Regions from separate parts of the Homo sapiens genome. Here region 1 is linked to region 2. Evidence: fine-mapped expression QTL. A gene starts in region 2. The other region holds a variant in brackets. All regions are shown on one strand. Distances are from middle to middle.

Region 1 (5,342 bases), 42 kb before region 2:
CTGGAGTGACCCTCCCTCCTCAGCCTCCTAAGTGGCTGGGAGTATAGGTGCGCTCTACCGTGCCTGGCCTAGTTTTTAAATTTTTTGTAGAGATGGGGGTCTATGTTGCCTAGGCTGGTGTAAAACTCCTGGGCTCAGGTTATCCTCCCGCCTCAGCCTCCCAAAGTGCTGGGATTAAAGGTGTGAGCCACCACATCCAGCCCTTTAAAATTTTTTTTAAAAATAAGAGATAGAGGTCTCATCATCTTGCCCAGGCTAGTCTCCAACTCCTGGGCTCAAGCAGTCTTCCCCTGTTGGCCTCCCAAAAGAATCCAGGACTTCTGACTCCAAATTTCATGCCATTTCTAGGATAGGATTTTTTTTTTTTGAGACAGTTTCACTCTTGTTCCCCAGGCTGGAGTGCAATGGCACAATCTTGGCTCACTGCAACCTCCGCCTCCTGGGTTCAAACGATTCTCCCGCCTCAGCCTCCCGAGTTGCTGCGATTACAGGTATGCACCACCACGCCCGGCTGCTTTTGTATTTTTTTAGTAGAGACAGGGTTTCTCCATGTCGGTCAGGCTGGTCTCGAACTCCCAACCTCAGGCGATCCACCGGCCTCGGCCTCCCAAAGTGCTGGGATTATAGCTGTGAGCCACCGCACCCAGCCGATATGATTGTTATTATTATACTTTGTATCCTTTCAGTTTCATATCTTCCTCTCTTGTGCTCAGACCCTTACTCATACCAAGTACTAAATTGTAAACACCAGATATAGCTCTAAAATGTTATTACCCCTTTCCAAGTGTATCTGTTTATCAACCAAAGTGGGGAGTGGGGAGCACATGCAGGATTAAGGAGAAGAGTCTGTGGCCCTTGGTATCATAAAAGAATTACAGTCAGGAGTTAGGGTGAGCTGGGGGTCAGGGATGTGACTAAACCTTTCTGAACCTGGGGCAGAATCAATAACCATACCTAAGTGGAAAACAGTGTGCTGGGTTGCAACAATGCCCTTTGTCAAATAAACAATCCACAGATAGTCAGAATCAGACTTTATTTAACAATCTGAAAATGTGTTCTTCCGGCTTTAAGTCTTGCAAAATGGGTCGTAAGTCAAAGACAGATTTGTTCACTATCCTCTGAGTGTGTGTGGTTATGTCTCTGTATAGGCAAGTGTCTGTGTCTATAGATACTTTTGCTTTTTATAGTGATTAAAGCTCCACTTTAGTTAATGTATAAAGTCTTATTCTAATAATGCTAAAACCAGAATTAAATATTCCCTGAGTCTAATGTTCTCTTCTCCCCAGCCTGCCTCCCTCCATCCCTCCCGTAAGGCTGCTCCTCCGCCTCCATTAATGCCAGGTCTTTAGACAGCACCAGCATTCCTACTGAGAACCCAGGGATGGATGCTGGCTCTTATATCCCTCTGACCTATACCCTCTGGTTGAAGAGCTTCTCTGGCGAGGTTTGGGGCAGGAGGAGTCTTGGTAGTTTCTCTTCAGAGTTGTGGATTTTCACTTGTGGATACCTGGAAAGTAAACATGATTGTGTTAGGTGTTGACCTGCCTTCCCACCAACCACTTATGGAGGGGTTAAACTCAGTTTGCTTCTACTGAATTATACTTCATGTAATGCCACTGGCCTCTCTTGAGGGAGGCAATGTGAAACTGGTTGTTGGGATTATTGCAAGGACTTGTTGCAGATATTGTTCATTACATCATTCACAATATCTTTATGATGATTCACAGGAGAATTTCTTTTTTTTTCTTTTTGAGACATAGTCTTGCTCTGTCTCCCAGGCTGGAGTGTAGTGGCACAATCATAGCTAACTGTAGCCTTGAACTCCAGGGCTCAAGTATTCTCACCTCAGCCTCTGAGTAGCTAGGACTACAGGCGCACACAACCATGCCTGGCTAATTTATTAAAAAAAAAATTTGTTGCCTAGAATGGTCTTGAACTCCTGGGCTCAAGTGATCCTCCCACCTCAGCCTCCCAAAGTGCTGGGATTACAGGTGTGAGCCCCGGCACCTAGCCTCCTTAAGGAATGAGCATTGTGAATTGGGTTAACTGATCAGGTTTTTCTCTTCTTGGATTTTAGAAAGTCTGGAACCAATTTCATGGTCATCCTTAGTAAGCTTATTTTATAGAATGCATTTTTTATACTTGCCTAATTCATGGCTCCATTTTACATCACTATCCTGTCTCATATAATTCTGAGTTTTTCTGCTGTATGTTGTGTATATGTGTGTATGTTAATATAATAAACATATATATATGCAGTTCACATGCTGCATAATGACATTTTGATCAACAATGGACTCTATATACAAAGGTGGTCCCATAACATTTTAATGGAGCTGAAAAATTTCTATTGCCTAGTGATGTGGCAGCTATTGTTAACATTGTAGCCTTTATAACATCACAGCACAACACATTACTCACATATTTGTGATGATGCTGGTATAAACAAACTTACAGTGCTGCCAGTTGTAAAAAGTATAGCACATGCAATTATGTACAGTACATAACAC[T/C]TGATAACAATAAACAACTATATTACTTGATGTATTTAATATACTATGCTTTTAAAAATATTTTTCTATATATATTATTTTTGAGACACAGTCTCACTCCATTGCCCAGGTTGGAGTGCAGTGGCACAATCCTGGCTCACTGCAGCTTCTTTGTCCCGGGTTCAAGTGATTCTCATGTTCTCATGCCACAGCCTTCCAAGTAGCTGGGATTACGGGTGCGTGCCACCATGCCCGGCTAATTTTTGTATTTTTAGTAGAGATGGAGTTTCACCATGTTGGTCAGGCTGGTCTTGAACTCCTGGTCTCAAGTGATCTGCCTGCCTCAGCCTCCCAAAGTGCTGGGATTACTGGCATGAACCACCACATCAGCCTACAATACTTTTTATTATTATTTTAGTGTGTTTCCTACTTATTAAAAAAAAAGTTCTGCTAATTGGCCAGGTGCGTTGGCTCACACCTGTAATCCCAGCATCCCAGCACTTTGGGAGGCTGAGGCGGGAGGATCATGAGGTCAGGAGTTCCAGATCAGCCTGACCAACATGGTGAAACCCTGTCTCTACCAAAAATACAAAAATTAGCCAGGCATGGTGGCGCCACCGCCTGTAATCCCAGCTACTCAGGAGGCTGAGGCAGGAGAATCGCTTGAACCCAGGAGGCGGAGGTTGCAGTGAGCCGAGATTGCACCACTGTACACTGTACTCCAGCCTGGGCGACCGAGAGAGACTCCATCTCAAAAAAAAAAAAAAAAAAAAGTTCTGCTTATTTAAAAAAAACATTAACTGTAAAACAGCCTCAAGTAGATCCTTCAGGAAGAGGCGTTGTTATTACCAGAGATGACAGGTCCATTTGTGGTAGTGCCCTGAAGACCTTCTAGTGGGACAAAATGTAAAGGTAGAAGACAGTGATATGGGTGATCCTGACCGTAGGCCAATGTGTATGTTTGCGTGTTTTTATTTACTTGTTTATAGACGGTGTCTAGCTATGTTGCCCAGGTTGTATTTGAACTCGTGGGCTCAAGTGATCCTCCTGCCTCAGCCTCCTGCATCGCTGGAACTACTACAGGCACATGCCACAACACACCCAGCTCTGTGTCTTAGTTTTTAACAAAAAAAGTTTTAAAAAGAAACAGAAAAAATACAGAATAAAGCTTACAGAATAAGGATATAAAGAAAATATTTTTTGGCCGGGTGTGGTGGCTCCCGCCTGTAACCCCAGCACTTTGGGAGGCCAAGGCAGGTGCATCATCTGAGGTCGGGAGTTTGAGACCAGCCTGACCAACATGGAGAAACCCCGTCTCTACTAAAAGTACAAAATTAGCTGGGCGTGGTGGCGCATGCCTGTAATCCCAGCTACTCAGGAGGCTGAGGCAGGAGAATTGCTTGAACCCAGAGGCCAAGGCTGCGGTGAGCCGAGATCATGCCATTGCACTCCAACCTGGGCAACAAGAGTGAAACTCCGTCTCAAAAAAAAAAAAAAGAAAAGAAAAATATTTTTTAATGGTGTAGCCTAAGTGTACAGTGTTTATAGTCTATAGGAGTGTAAGTAATGTCCTAGGCCTTCACATTCACTCACCACTCACTCACTGACTCACCCAGAGAAGCTTCCACTCCTGCAAGCTCCACTCATGATAGTGCCCTATACAAGTGTATCACTTTTTATTTTCTATATGCTATTTTTACTGTACTTTTCTATGTTTAGATACACAAATATTAACCACTGTGTCACAGCTGCCTACAGAATTCAGTAAAGTAACATGCTGTATAGGTTTGCAGCCTAGAAGCAATAGGCTATACCATACAGCCACACATAATGACAAAATCGTCTAATAATGCATTTCTCAGAGCATATCCTTGTTGTTGAGCAACACATTACTGTATAATATGACCTTTTTGCATTTAAAAAAAATATCTTAACCTCTTTAACTCCTTTTTGAAATAATTTGAGATTTAATTAAATAAATACCTAGAAGATAGGGCCAGTTTAAGGTCAAGTATAGGAAAATGGGCACGGAGATACCACGAAGTCCCAGTTCATTCTTGTTTCCTCTGATTCCCACCTGCTTGACTGCCCTAAGGGTATGGTTCACTGCCGGATTCCCCTTGTAGCCTGTGGTGAAGATTCCAGCCTTTTCCCAAACCCCTGTCAATCTAATGCCCAATCTATTCTCTGTATATCTGGTCTTACCTCTTCTTGAGGTTCAGGTGCTGTGAGGTTGTTGTTTTCTGGTACCATGGAGACTTGAAGCTGGTCTTGGCCCTACAAAGAGAAGAGTTCTGCCAGTAAGAGGTGGCTCAACCTTTCCAGCCTCTCAGCATAGAAGTGTCTTCTGTGCCTTATACTTTACAAGGGTCTCAGTATTTGTACTATTACAAAGGGCAAAATACAGTGTTGTTTCACCAGAGCCTGAAGGCATCGGGAAAGGCTTTCATCCATCCTCTTTTACAGATGAATAAACTAAGATTCAAAGGGTAAAAAGACTTGCTGGGACAGGAAACCAGGTCTTTGAATTCCTGAGTTGTTTCCATGATCAAACACCATGTAATCTGTGTGACATGGTGTGGATGTGTATCTATAAGGGAGTGCGAGGTCTTAAAATTACTACCTGCCACTTTTAGATGAACCGTCCTCAAGAATGTACTGCAACTCTCACACTTAAGTGATCCTAATTCATGACACGCAGTTAGGAGAAGCAAGTGGTAAAATAATTTCTTTGGGAAAAATTTTAGGTTCTGAGATGGGAACCCAAGGTGTAGGAAGCCCAGTCTAGACCACGTGCAGGGGTGCACACCTGTAGTCCCAGCTCCTTGAGAGGCTGAGGCAGGAGGATCACTT
Region 2 (5,336 bases):
CTCATTTTACAGGTGCAAGATCTGAAGCCCAGAGCAGGACATTATTTAGCCAAGGTTTGGAGTCTATGCTTACAAAGGAGTGAAAGCCCAAAGCAAGGTTTTAGTGTTGACGAGAGGCTAGATGAAGACAGAAGATGCAAGAGTGAAATACAATCAATTGTATGTCTTTTATTTTTATGTATTTATTTTTATTTTTTGAGACAGAGTCTCCCTCTGCTTGAGTGTGGTGTGGTGTGATCACTGCTCACTGCAGTCTTGATCTCCTGGGCTCAAGCAGTCCTCCCACCTTGGCCTCCCAAAGTGCTGGGATTACAGGAGTGAGCCACTGTGCCTGGCTGGTATGTCTTTTTAAAATTACTATCATTCATGAGTGTTTTGTCTTTTAGGGTTTTTTTTTTTTTCAACCACAGTGTGGCCTTCTCTCCAGTACCTCCTGCTCGCCCACACTGTTTCGAGCTAGACCTTCCCATAGGCCCTGCTCTCGGGTCTACCAGATTTGTAAGTCTTCAGAGAGGCTGAAACTAGGATCAAGGTGAAGTTAGGGTAAGTGAAGTAACGAAGTCTGGCTACACGAACTCTTTCCCTTTTCCTCCTCTCTTTCACATGACCTCAAATGATAGAAAATAACCTCCCTTCCATTGTGGTCTCTTAAAGTCAGGAGCTACATCTACATTCCATCAGTTTTCTGCTGATAAATCAACTCGGGAGAGCTGGTTGCCTTTAAGCCTTCCCAGGGCTCAAAGCAGTGCTCCACTTTTAGAAGATAATAGGGATATTTCAGTTGGTAAGCAGAGCTGTTCATCCAAATGCTTCTAAGTCCATCAGCTCTTAGAAAACCAAAACTTCTCCGTTGTAGAAGGCAGGTTGGGCTTAATAAAGAGAGAGAGAAAAAAAGGAAAACCGAAACTCTATCTCAGGTCCTTCTTGTCTTTCTTCCCTCGCTCTTTCTTCTGGCTGACATGTCTTCCCAAACCGCCTTGTCTACTAGAGGGTTGGTAGGTGGAGAGCAGAGGCTCAGGTTAGAAGCAAAGAAAATATTCTGTACAGGTAGAAACAAAAATGCCATCAAAATGTGTAGAGAATGTCCCCACAATTTAGATTGCCAAGCAAGTAATAGATGGGCAGCCCACCTAAGTGCCAGTGCTGGAGCAGGGCTACCTGACACTAACCAAGGACACACTCTGAACACAGATGTGGTTCATCACCCTGGGAGGTGTACTCCCCAACGCCAAAGGGAGGGTAGAAGAAGCAGATTTGGGCTCCTGCTTACGTCAGCTGAAACACCACCCAGAGGCCAGGCAGGGTCAGGTAGGGGGAGAACTATGCAGGATTATTCTAAGCCTTTGGTGGGGGGTGCCTGCTGGCATCCGCTGCATCGCTGTTTTTGGGGAAATTGCCCTCTATGGAAAATTACCCTCCAATTTCATCATCTGTAAAATACCAATTTTGGATTGCTAGCACAAAATTTGATACAAAGGTGGCCACCACCATCACTTCCTTTCTTTCACCTTTTCTGGGTCAGCCTGAGGGTTGTCGAAGGTTCTGCCCAGAGACTGTTGTCTCCCCAGCTTCCCTTATCCTTGCCCAAGATCGGGTGGCGGTCTCCGACCTCTCTCCAATCTGCCAGTTTTCATGGAAGCCCACTCCTCGCTCCCGTTTCCCTGGGAGAGCGGGAGACCCTTCTCGTCAGCCCAGACCCTTCGGGGCCCCTGAGCACCCTGCCCGCCCCTCCTGCCCGGCCGGGCTCGGCCTCGGCCTCGGCTCCCTGTGGGCCAGACAGACAGCGAGGCCCGGCCACCTACCTTCTCCTGGGCCCTGCTAAACTTCTTCTGCACCTGCTTGGCGAAGAGGCCGGCCGCGCCGCCTGCCTTGCCCTCTGCCATCCTGCCAACTCCCTGGGGGCCGCCGCCCTGGCCCCGCGCCCTGTGGTTTTCTGAGGCCCCCGAGGAGGAAGTGCGGGCTCCCGGCATGCCTCGCATCCGGCCCCAGCCCTGAGCCACCTCAGGCCGCCCCTGGCCAGCCCTGAGGCCCGCCCCTCAGCCCACCACTGTCAGCTGGAGCAGGCCGGCTCGGAGGGGCGGGCCCGGGGCCTACCCTCAGGCAGCGCTCGCTCGAGGCCAGCTTCCGAGCTCCAACCCCTGCCCGAAACCTCGGCCTCACTGAACCAGGTCCTCAGTGGTGGGCCCACACTCACTCGCTCCGGAAAGCCAGTTCCCATCACGCTGAGCACTGCAAAGCAACTGCCACCGCAGGGTAGAAAATGATGTGGGTTCCACTCAGCGAGAGGACCTACCATATCGAAAACACGTTTAGGTTCTCTGAGTATGCATGCGAAGCCGCCATGTACACTGCGTTTCTTGCTCCAGGTAGGCTCTAAGCCTGGAACTGGTAGGGATAGAGTGCAGAAAGCAGGCAGGACACCCGAGCCGGGCTTGAAAGAGAGAAACAGGCCGGGCGCGGTGGCTCACGCCTGTAATCCTAGCACTTTGGGAGGCCGAGGCGGGTGGATCGCCTGAGGTTAGGAGATCAGCCTGACCAATACGGTGAAACCGCGTCGCTACTAAAAATACAAAAATTAGCTGGGTGTGGTGGCGCACGCCTGCAGTCCCAGCTACTCGAGAGGATGACGCAGGAGAATTGTTTGAACCCGGGAGGCAGAGGTTGCAGTGAGCCGAAATCGCGCCACTGCATTCCAGCCTGGGCGACAGAGCGACAGTTCGTCTCAAATAAATAAATAAATAAATAAATAAATAAATAAATAAATGAGGAACAACTAAGCTGGAGATAGAAACAGGGTAGGGGGCTGGTTCTTAGGCAAGAGAATGATCACATTGAAAAAAGGCTGAGGAGGATAGTATGGACGCCCGTGCTGAGCATGAGGAGCAAGTTTTTCTAGTTGGAGTACAGTGTACTGGATGGAGGCAGAATGTGAACACAGACACAGATTGTGCAAATTGGGGTGCGGCTGTTGAGATGACAACTATTGTTTCTTTAGGGAGAAGTTCTCCAAAAAATTCCTCCCTGACCTGTTTGAGGGGATAGCTTGAGATTAGGACACTAGGTGTGGAGGAACCACGTACTCAGATTTTACAGTGCAGGTTAAAATTTCCTCAAGGCAGGGAAGAAGGTCAAAATAACACTTCCTAAGGAGTGGAGGGGGAAGATAGGGCCTGACACAAAATTAGAGGCCCTTGTATGCTACTGTGTTCCTCTTCTTTCTCCAAAACAATCATTACTGCACTCAAGGTCAACTGTGTACCAGGCATTGCTGGGTGTTCTGAAACAAGGATGAATAAAATGCAGTCCCTGACCTTAAGATGCTTAATGAAGTCTGGCCGGGCACCACGGCTCACACCTGTAATCCCAACACTTTAGGAGGCTGAGGCAGGCAGATTGCTTGAGCCCAGGAGTTTGAGACTAGCCTGCGCAACATAGCAAGACCTTCTCTCTGCTAAAAATACAAAAATTAATTGGGCGTGGTGGCACACACCTGTAGTCCCAGCTATCAGGGAGGCTGAGGTGGGAGGATCACCCGAGCCAAGGGAGGTGGAGGCTGCAGTGAGCCCTGATGGTGCCACTGCATTCCAGCCTGGGCAAAGCGTGAGGCCCTTTCTCAACCAATAAAGAATAAGTATTAATAAATAAGTACATAAATAAAGATGCTTAAAGTCTGGAAGTGGAGATAGGTGGGTAATCAGGTGATTCTAATGTAATGTGCTTAATTTATTTGTAGAGATGGATACAAAATTTTCTGGGAATAGGTGATTAGGGTTTGTTTGTTTGTTTGTTTGTTTGGAGACAGGGTCTTGCTTTGTTGCCAGGCTGGAGTGCAGCAGTGCCATCAGGGCTCACTGCAGCCTCTACCTCCCAGGCCCAAGTGATGGTCTCACCTCAGCCTCCTGAGTAGCTGGGACTAAGGTGCGTGCATGCCACCACTCCTGGCTACCCAGGCTGATCTGGAACTCTTGAGCTCAAGCAATCCACCCGCCTCAGCCTCCCAAAGGGCTGGGATTACAGGTGTGAACCACCTTGCCCTGCCAGGCGATTAGGGTTTATTCTGGATGTTAGCTTTGGTGATGCCCTGGAAGAGGCAGGGTGATGAAAATAGAAGGACTTGATATTGGATGGGGAGAAGTGGGGAGAAGCATGGAGAATAGCAGTACTGCGGGAACACTGAGAGTAGATGGCAATGCTAACAGGTGTGTCACTGGCAGAAGGAGGCCAGTACCTGTGTCCCTGCCAGGACTACATGGCATCCTCAGCAATGCAACCCAGCCACTGTCTCCTAAGAAACTCTGTTTAGTGCCAATATCTTGCAAACTGAAATTGATGGTCACCAAATCATGTAGTGTTAGAGAAGAAACAACCCTTAGAAGTTAATTAGATAGGGAAATTGAGTCACAGAAAGGGCTGATGACTTGACCACAGCCACCCAGCTCCTCAGTGGTGGAACTGGGATGGGAACAGACTCAGCCTCTTATAGCACATGGAGTGTTCTAGAGGCCTCTGCTGAGCCTGTCAATTCCAGGGTCTGTCTCAGCCAGTTTCTCCTTCTGTAATGTTTAATACCCTAGTCCCTCTTGTCTGGTCTTAAGTGATTGACATGAAAAGCTGCTTCTCATCCTTTTTAGCCTTCCCCTTTCAGTTCCCCCTTTGCTTTCTCATAGGCCACTCTAACAGACTGAGCCCTGGCCAGGATACAGCAGAATTATCAGTTTCCCAGTTCTCTGTGGTTTATAGAACCCTGGATCCGGTTGCCTAATTTTAGTCCCAGCCTTAAAGTGCTGATTCACACTTAGCTTGAGGCCCTATGTTGTTGTTGCCTCTTCCTTTCTGTTCTGCCTCTTCCCCTCAACCCTTTCGTTTCTTTGTTTAGTATCTTCTCTTCTCTCCTTTTTTCTATTCTTAGCTCTCCAGTCTCCATTGTTGTTTTTTTTTTTTTTTGAGACAGAATCTCACTTCATTGCCCAGGCTGGAATGCAGTGGCGCAATCTTGGCTCACTGCGGCCTCCACCTCCCAGGCCCAAGCGATTTTCTCCAGTCTCCTTTCTAATTTGTCACTTTCTTAGTCTGCTGGTATCTGCCCTGCCTCCTAATCTTATACTTCTATCTCTGGTGTATCCTAGTAGTTGCCATCACCCAGAAACTTGGAGTGGGCGTTCGTTTTAGGCACTAAAGGGGGAAACAAAAGAAGGATGAACCCACAGTATACCTGGGAAAGACAGGGCACATTCAGTCACTCAGGAAGTTTTTTGTTTGTTTGTTTTGAGACGGAGTCTTGCTTTGTTGCCCAGGCTAGAGTGCAGTGGCACGATCTCAGCTCACTGCAACCTCCA

What was found. PIP is the estimated chance that this variant, and not a neighbour inherited with it, causes the effect. A credible set is the group of variants that fine-mapping cannot tell apart.
Region 1: its variant is the best candidate, but not a certain one, in a credible set for the expression of BIN2 in whole blood (TOPMed, PIP 0.68).

Annotation. Positions count from the first base shown.
Region 1 is chr12:51,280,022-51,285,363 of GRCh38, forward strand. BIN2 (bridging integrator 2) reads right to left here. Exons shown (of 13, transcript NM_016293.4): 12 at 4,695-4,766; 13 at 1,017-1,507. The coding sequence ends at 1,478. Among named protein-coding and RNA genes, the nearest start is that of SMAGP, 12 kb to the left of the region's middle. The variant T/C (reference allele first, on the strand shown) is at 2,511.
Region 2 is chr12:51,322,220-51,327,555 of GRCh38, forward strand. BIN2 (bridging integrator 2) reads right to left here and starts at 1,955. Exons shown (of 13, transcript NM_016293.4): 1 at 1,803-1,955. The coding sequence starts at 1,883. LOC105369767 (a long non-coding RNA gene) reads right to left here and starts at 1,789. Exons shown (of 2, transcript XR_944957.3): 1 at 1,509-1,789; 2 at 149-984. RefSeq lists an enhancer at 1,481-1,670 and silencers at 1,701-2,190, 4,886-5,180.